Homo sapiens: one gene and its partner. The protein of the gene in region 2 interacts with the protein of the main gene of each other region in a pairwise test. Each region holds a gene or a part of one and is shown on either strand. Other genes may lie near its edges.

Evidence for each region.
Region 1: the proteins of CUL5 (region 2) and ASB2 interact in binary tests that used the Homo sapiens proteins (3 or more experiments, as listed by UniProt).

What each region holds. Positions count from the first base shown.
Region 1 is NC_000014.9:93,966,571-93,970,070, reverse strand, and holds part of ASB2 (ankyrin repeat and SOCS box protein 2), read left to right. Parts: intron 1-100; exon of another isoform or gene 101-151; intron 152-3,500. UniProt on the Homo sapiens protein: Substrate-recognition component of a SCF-like ECS (Elongin-Cullin-SOCS-box protein) E3 ubiquitin-protein ligase complex which mediates the ubiquitination and subsequent proteasomal degradation of target proteins.
Region 2 is NC_000011.10:108,014,440-108,019,514, forward strand, and holds part of CUL5 (cullin-5), read left to right. Parts: intron 1-5,075. UniProt on the Homo sapiens protein: Core component of multiple cullin-5-RING E3 ubiquitin-protein ligase complexes (ECS complexes, also named CRL5 complexes), which mediate the ubiquitination and subsequent proteasomal degradation of target proteins.

The DNA of each region.
Region 1 (3,500 bases), on a different chromosome or scaffold from region 2:
GAGAGGGGAAGGTACTAGGAGGAAAAGACCACTTTTTAAATGCAATTTTGGTCCTCACTATAACCCTGCCAGGGTCCATGTCTCTTTTCCCATTTCACAGATGTGGAGACTAAGGCCCAACTTAGAAGAGAGCCGGCTGTGAATGAACCAGGTACTGCTCTGAGTGGATTTGCCTGAGTAATTTACGTGGATTAACCTAAGTAACCCTGTCACAGCCACTTTACAGATGTCACCTGGGGAAAGATGGGGCTTCTCAAGAACCAATGTTTGGGGTTCTGCAAAGAGGGCAGGAGAGGCACTCCTGAAGGCCCTGCGGGGCCAGGCCTCCCTTGCTCCACACTGGCCTTGGACTGGCCCCTCCCTCTACCAGGAAGCCTCCCTGATGGCTGGGCAAGGCCTATTAGACTCCTGCTTTCCTTGGGAAAGGGCTATTTTTGATTCCAATCAGCCTCCCAGAGTGTCCCTTGAGGCTGCTGGCCTCCCTCCAAGACTTAGGCCCAGAAGGCCGCCCAACCCCCAGACAGAGGTCTCAGAAATCAAGCTGGGCAGCATCTTCATGACAAGGGGAAACTGAGGTCCAAAGAGGGGCAAGGCATCACCCGAATCAATGCCCTCTCCCAAGAGATAGGTGCTCTGACCTTGTCCATTTTACAGATGGAGAAACTACTATTCCAGAGGCTCTCCCGGCTAACAACCAGCAAAGCTGGGATGTGAACTCAGTCAGGCTGGCTCCACACGCTGCTTCATAACTTCCCCCTCGTGCCAGGGCTGAGCAGCACCACCTGTCCCCCAGGAGACGCCGCCATAGCATCCCTGACAGCTGTCACCAGCCTACGACTGCATCCGTTCAGGGACAGGGAGTTTCCTGTCCTGAAGCGGCCCGTGCATTGCACACTTACTAACAGCCAGACCCACAGCTGAGCCTGTACACACATGAACCCTTTTGACTCTACCACCAACCCCATAATAACACTGGCTAATATCTCCATTTTGTGCATTTTATCCATTTTACCCATAAAGGTGGGTAACTTACCCAAGAACCCTTGAAGGCTGAGGACCTCAGTGGGAAAAGCAAGAGATATGTGGGTCCACAGTGGGGTAGGAAATTTGCCTCTTCAAAGGCAGAGTCCCTCTCTCTCAAGTAAACTCCATAACAGCTGTGCTTCCAAGGGTTTGAGCACTGTTGTGGTCCTATCATTCACCTGTCCATCTAGCATTTATTAAATACCTTTTGTGTACCCAGCCTTGGGTTAGGTCCTGGGGTTACGAGTATGACATAGTCCTGCTCCTCAGAAGTTTCCAGACTTTCTAGGGAGACAGGCCTCTAGCAGGTAGTCCAAGGAGTAGACTTTCTCAAGGTCCTGTCAAGGTTAAACCCTTCTCCTCCCTCTGCGTGTACCCTCCATGCAGCAGGCAAAGAGGCTGGTATGGTGCCCAGGGCACAGATATAGGCCAGGGGGTGCTGGGCAGCTGGGAGGATAGCTGGCTGCAGCTGGATGAGGACAGATCTGCTCCAAACCCATGTGTGTGTCAGTTGCTTGGGTCAGTGTTCCTGGAATTGCCAGAAAGAGCATTGGATTTGAGGTTGGAAGATCAGGCTTCAAATCCCAGCTTTCTATATGTCTCTCCTCCTATAAACCCTTCCCCTCCCGCTCTAAACCTTACCTGCCTCATCTGTAGAATGGGACCAATAACGTATGCGCATCAGGGTCCTTTTGGAAGGAGAGGGGCTGTAGAGGAATTAAGTTAATTCAGTGAAAATCTTCCTACCTTCCAGGGCTGTGTGAGGTAATGACATGGATAATTGGCCAATGTAAAGTCTCTGAGTGGTGTCAACCCATGGGAGAGGCTTGGGAAGGGCCTGGTAAGTCTGGAATTAGCTTCGGGATTGGTGATTCTGGGTGACCATTACCTGGCTGCCTTCGCCTCCAGGAAGGCACATGGTCAGGGAAGGGCCACTGCAGCCATGTGCTGTCTATGAGTCTCTGGCCCATACCAGGCTGCAGGGCCAGCAGCTGCCTGGAGATGATGAGGGGTCCCCACGAAATAATCATGTTACCCCTTACAAGCTGCCTACACATCTTAGCTCACATATGCTTCTACAGCATAGCGAAGTAGCTTATCTCCTTCCCATTTTTATTAATAAAGGAACTGAGGCCCAGAAAAGGGGAAGTGACCTGCCCCAGGTCATATAGCTAGTAAGTTGCAGAATTGAAAGTAGACTTAGGGGTCCTGACCTCCAGACTCAAGATCCCTCCACTCCCCCCGGGTTTTCTGTTCCCCCATGGCCAATACTAACCTCTTTTTGTCGACACGGCCATAGGGGATCCCCAGGGACAGAGAATTTGAGGTTTAATAGCACAGAGCCAAACCAAACGTCTCGCTGAGTTGCAGACTCTTTAGAACTGAAAAATCTGCGGAAAACTTCCAGCCCCAAATCGTCCTTTTGCAATGAGGAAACTGAGGCCCAGAGTAGGACAGGGACTTAGCTGAGGTCACAAAGCACTTTGGCCTTAGCAGGGCAATTATAGCTCAGCCTATGACTCTTAGTGCAGTGCTCTTCCCCCTTGTGCCCTGGCTTTGAGCAGACACCTTTAGATGGTGGCACCAGGATGCCAGGCCAGGTCCTGGGCACCAGCACTTCCTGCTAGTTCAGCACCATGTGCACTGAGCCCCTACCTTGCACCAGGCGGTGGGGTATGTAAAGCCAGACCAGCTTTAGAGAAGAGAAGGGTGTCATACCTCACTGGGCAGAGCCCCTTCCCCCCGCCACTGAAGGCAGACCTGGGCCAACTCAGACCTGGCAGGGACCCCAGCCTCAGAGAAGCAACAAAGGAGTGGGAAGCCAGGCCTGGGCCAGCTGGAGATGGGGGCTCCACCCAGCTGCACAGGTACCTCCTGCCAGTACAAGGGCCAGAGGACAGGCTCTAGTCTACCCTGCCATTTAACAGATGGAAAAACTGAGGACACAAGAGAGGAAGAGAGGCGCTCATGGCTGACTTGGGACAGAAACCCAAGTCCCTTGGTTCCCTGTCCTGGGCTCCTTTCACAATAAATAAAACTGCTGCTACTGCTGTAAATAACAGCACTCCAAGCATCGGGCATAAAATGATTGTGAGGTCATGACCCTTCCCCTCCTCTAGTGTGGACCACAGACTGGCCACCTGACATATTAATCTCATTGAGCAGGGGTTCTCAACTCTGGCCACACACTAACATCACCAGAGAAGCCTCTAGCATTGCATTCCCTGGGTCCCAGCCCTGAGGCTTTGAGTTCATTGATTCAGGGCTGAACCAGGTCCTTGACATGTTTTCAAGACTCTCAGCCAGGCCTGAGAGACATTCGTTAAGATGATTTGACTGCCTATAAGAGAAAACCCAACTAACATTGGCTAAACCACAAGAATCTTCAGTACCTAACAAGTAGGCTAGGGTGGGCGGACCCAGCATTGGTTCAGCAGTTCTGCAACATAATGAAGGACCCAGAAAAACTATTATTC
Region 2 (5,075 bases):
AGGGGTTTGAAATAAAGTTCTATAGTTACTGAGGAATATTTGAAAAATATGTGGGCAGAGATACTCTCAAGCCCTCAATCTATTTTTGGCTTTTACACATAAATAAAAGTTATTATATTTTCTGTATATTTATAATCTGCTTGTGAGATTGGCCATGGATGAGGGGCATTTGTGCCAGTGACATCTTGTTCATTGAAACCGTAACCATAGCAGGAGTAATTAAGTCTATGGGAAATACATTTATTCATTGAACGAGAATTTAGTATTTCCTAATTCTAACTAGATAATGATGAACTAGGCAGACAGCTCCTGCCCTTGTATAATTTACATTTTTGTTGGGAAGAGAGACAATAAACATAAACAGTGAAATACATACTGTAAGTCAAGTTGTGATAGGTACTATGAATAAAAACAACCAGGGTAAAAGAGAGAGTGCTCGGTGCTCTTATTATTATTATTATTTTTATTTTTATTTTTGAGACGGGGTCTCACTCTCTTGCCCAGGCTGGAGTGCAGTGGCACGATCTTGGCTCACTGCAACCTCCACCTCCTGGGTTCAAGCAATTCTCCTTCCTCAGCCTCCCGAGTAGTTGGGATTACCGGTGACCACCACCATGCTCGGCTGATTTTTGCATTTTTAGTAGAGATGGGGTTTCACCATGTTGGCCAGGCTAGTGTTGAACTCCTGACCTTAAGTGATCCTCCCACCTCAGCCTCCCAAAGTGCTGGGATTACAGGCATGAGCCATCACAGCTGGCTTATTTTTGATAAGATAGTGAGGGAATGCCTCTGAGGAGATAATAGTTGAGGTAAAACCAGAATGAAGCAAGGGAGCAAGTCATGTACATATTTAGAAGAGTTCCTTGTAGAGGGAACAGCCAGTGTGAAAGCACAGAGTCAGGATCATGCTTGGCAAGGAATATGGATGTGATACGAAGATTTGAATATCATCGGTGAATGTGGTTAAGGTGCATAACCAGAGAATTCTTTTTAATATGTCTAGTTAAACATAAATGAGAACCTTATTAAGAACTTGTCAATTTTTCATTGGGTTGATAGAAATTGCCCTCTTGAAACGTATATCTAAGAGGGACATGGGCCTTAGAGCGGCCTTCCCCTCCTTCAGTGTACTGTCCTAGAGAGATGGTTGCATTCGACACAGCCTAGGGAGGAAACAAATTTCAAGGGTGTCTGTGTTGGTCATGGGTAGGAATGGGAGAGGGAATAGTGGACTAATCAGTAACTGTAAAACTTTGTGATACATGTAAATGGTAGAATCTTTCATGTTCTATGAAAATAAATGATTGAACAATTACCATAATCTGGAGGTGATGTATGTTAATTAAAACTTCTAAAAGGAAGTGGCAGCTCAGGGTAAATTTTGATCAGTCATTTTTCAGTAGATTAGAGGAGGGGAATTTTAGACTGCTGGAAGGTAGAAAGAGGATACTAGGCATCTTTCTAGTAAAAAGAGAGGTTTTGTTTTTGTTTTTGTTTGTTTTGAGAGGAGGTCTCACTCTCACACAAGCTGCAGTGCAGTGGCATGATCATGGCTCACTGCAGTCTTGATCTCCCAGGATCAAGCGATCCTCCCACTTTAGCCTCCTGAGTGGCTGAGACTACAGGCACATACCACCCTAGGTCTGGCTAATTTTTTATAGAGATGGGATCTCACCATATTGCCCAGACTGGTCTCCACTCCTGAGCTCCAGTGATCTTCCTGCGTAGGCCTCCCAAAGTGCTGGGATTACAGGAATGAGCAAAAGAGCTAGTCAGCCAGAGAGGTTTTTCTTTTCTCTTCTCTTCTCTTCTCGTCTTCTCTTCTCTTCTCTTTTCTTTTCTGTTGAGACAGGGTCTCACTCTGTCCCCCAGTCTGGAGTACAGTGGCGCAGTCACAGCTCCCTACAGCCTTGACCTCCTCAGGCTCAGGTAATCCTCCCACCTCATCCTCCCACAGGTGCAACACCAGCATTCCCAGCTCATTTAAAAAAATGTTTAGAGACAGGGTTTTGCCATGTTGTCCAGGCTAGTCTGGAATTCCTGGGCTCAAGCAATCTGCCCTGTCCTTCCAAAGTGCTGGGATTACTGGCGTGAGCTACCACCCCTACTTGAGGTTTCTCTTAATAAATATTTTGCTTAGTGTCCTGGTGAACCCAGTTGTCAGTAAGAGCCATTTGCCTCCTGCCTTGGTTAGTAGGTGGAGGAAATAGATGCCTCATATGCTCTGTAAGGAAAGCAGGGCTGGGTGCAGTAACTCACACCTGTAATCCCAGTGATTTGGGAGGCCAAGGTGAGAGTATTGCTTGAGGCCAGGAGTTTGATACCAGCCTGGGCAACCCCATTTGTACAAAAACAAACAAAAAAAAACAAACAAAAAGCAGGATACAGCTCAGGTTAAAACTTTGGTCAGAGGCTGGATGCAGTGGCTCATGCCCAACACTTTGGAAAGCAGAGGCAGGAGGATCATTTGAGGCCAGGAGTTGGAGACTAGATTGGGCAGCATAGCAAGACCTACCACCTCTACAAAAATAAAAATTAGAAAACATTGGTCAAATCCATGGAGTACATACAAATAATATCAAAGGTAATTGATCTGTGTAGCTGTGGTTTGTTCATTCCATAAAAATCTGAGCATTTATGCTGTACTGGATACCATTTTAAATTTCAGGCTGGGCACAGTGGCTCACACCTGTAATCCAAGCACTTTGGGAGATTGAGGTGGGTGGATTACCTGAGCCCAGGAATTTTAGCCCACCCTGAACAGCATGGTGAAACTCGTCTCTACAAAAAATAAAAAATAAATACCTGGGGGTGGTGGTGTACGGTTTTAGTTCTAGCTACTCAGGAAGCTGAGTTGGGAGGCTTGCTTGAGCCCAGGAGGTTGAGGCTGCAGTGAATTGAGATCGCACCACTGCACTCCAGACTGGGCGACAAAGCAAGACCCTGTCTCAAAAAAAAAAAAAAAAAAAAAGTATCAGTGATACAATAGTGAATATGACAAAGTTCTTAGACTTTGGGGCTTATATCCTGATGGATGAATACTGACACTAAAGACATAAAGAATACACTTGCATAGTTTTTACTGGTAATTAGGGCGGTAGCGAAAACAACGTGATAAGAATGTTCAAGGCCGGATGCGGAGGCTCACGCCTGTAATTGCAGCACTTTGAGAAGCCCAGGTGGGAAGATCGCTTGAGCCCAGGAGTTCAAGACCAGTCTGGGCAACATAGTAAGACCTCATCTCTACAAAAAATTTAATAATTATCCAGGCATGTTAGTGCATGCCTGTAATCTCAGCTACATGGGAGGCTGAGGCAGGAGGATTGCTTGAGCACAGATCAAGGCTGCAGTGAGCAATGTTTATGCTGCTGCACTCTAGCCTGGACGACAGAGTGAGACCCTGTCTCAAAAAAAAAAAGTGTTCGGAAGGTGGAGCCACTATTTTACTCACTTATTTACAACAGAAAATAATTTTTCCCCAAAAAACTGCTTTTGACTATTTTTTGTTGAATGTTCTTTTTCTTCCTCATGTTGACATTTCAGCCAGATCCTATAGCTTTCCTGGGCTTTTCTTAAAAGTCTGGTTATTCCAAATTAAAATTTCAGTCTCATAGCCAATCAGAGTGTCTCTTGTACCATCTCAAGACTTTGTCTCTGGATGTGCAGAGAGGAATGGAGGAAGGGCATTTTTCTTAGGTTGGTTTGGGAGGCCTGAGGTGGCATTGGAGCTGAGACCTGAATGATCTGCATTCTAAGGCAAAGGTCTTGAGGTGCAGTGATGAGCTTGGCCTGTTTGAGGAACACCTTTAAAAGGTTGCTGTGGCTGGAACATAGAATTGCAGTAGTAAGAATTACTGGTATTCAAATATATACAATCAGCCCTCAGTATTCATGAGTTCCATGTCTGTGGATTCAACCAACCAAAGATTAAAAATACTCAGAAAAGGCTGGGGGTGATGGCGCATGCCTATAATCCCAGCACTTTGGGAGGCTGAGGCAGGCGGATCATGTGAGGTCAGGAGTTCAAGACCATCCTGGCCAACATGGTGAAACCCCATCTCTACTAAAAAAAAAAAAATACAAAAATTAGCTGAGTGTGGTGGCACATGCCAGTAGTCCCAGCTACGCAGGAGGCTGAGGCAGGAGAATCACTTGAACCCACGAGGCAGAGGTTGCAGGGAGCCGAGATCACGCCATTGCACTCCAGCCTGGGTGACGGAGTGAGACTGTGTCTTAAAAAAAAAAGAGAGAGAGAAACATCACATATATGCACTTAATGTGGCACCCGCACACATTTATTTTTATTAAGCCACCTCACTTTTGTTGAGATAAGAAAGATTTTATGAATCCCCTATAGATGCAAGTAGTGTACTTGCAATGTAACAATGGTTATGAGCTCAGCCTCTGCAGCCACACTGCTTGGGTTGGCCTCCAGGTTCTGCCATTTGCTAGCTGTGTGGTATTGGGCAAGTTACTTAACATCTCTGTGCCTCAGTTTCTATATCTATAAATAGCAGTGATCTCAAAAAAACCTCAGAAAAAAATTGCGTCTGTATTGAATATGTACAGACCTTTTTTTCTTATAATTCCCTAAACAGTACAGTATAGCAGCTGTTAGCATTTACATTATAGTAGGTATTGTAAGTAATTTAGAGATGGTTTAAAGTGTATGGGAGGATGTGCATGGGTAATAAGCAAATGCTATGCCATTTTCTATCAAGGACTTGAACATGTATGGGTTTTGGTATCCCGATGGGTGGGGGTGGGGGTGGGGTGGGGTGGATCCTGGAATCATTTCCCCACAGATACCAAGGGACAACTGTACAGTAGTTTGATTCTTTTGGTTAGTGGGGATTGGCAAATGGGGTTTTAAAATCACATAACTGGGAGCAATAGTGGCTTCATAAACAGTAAGGGAACCCACACATTCAAATAACTAACCTCATAATTCACATGAATTATCTAAAATACGACAACTGAGTTCCTTTGGTAAAGTTATTAGAGTGCCATTAATTGGATATACAGTCATTTACTGCATATTGATGTTTTGGTCAACAACGGATCACATATATAAT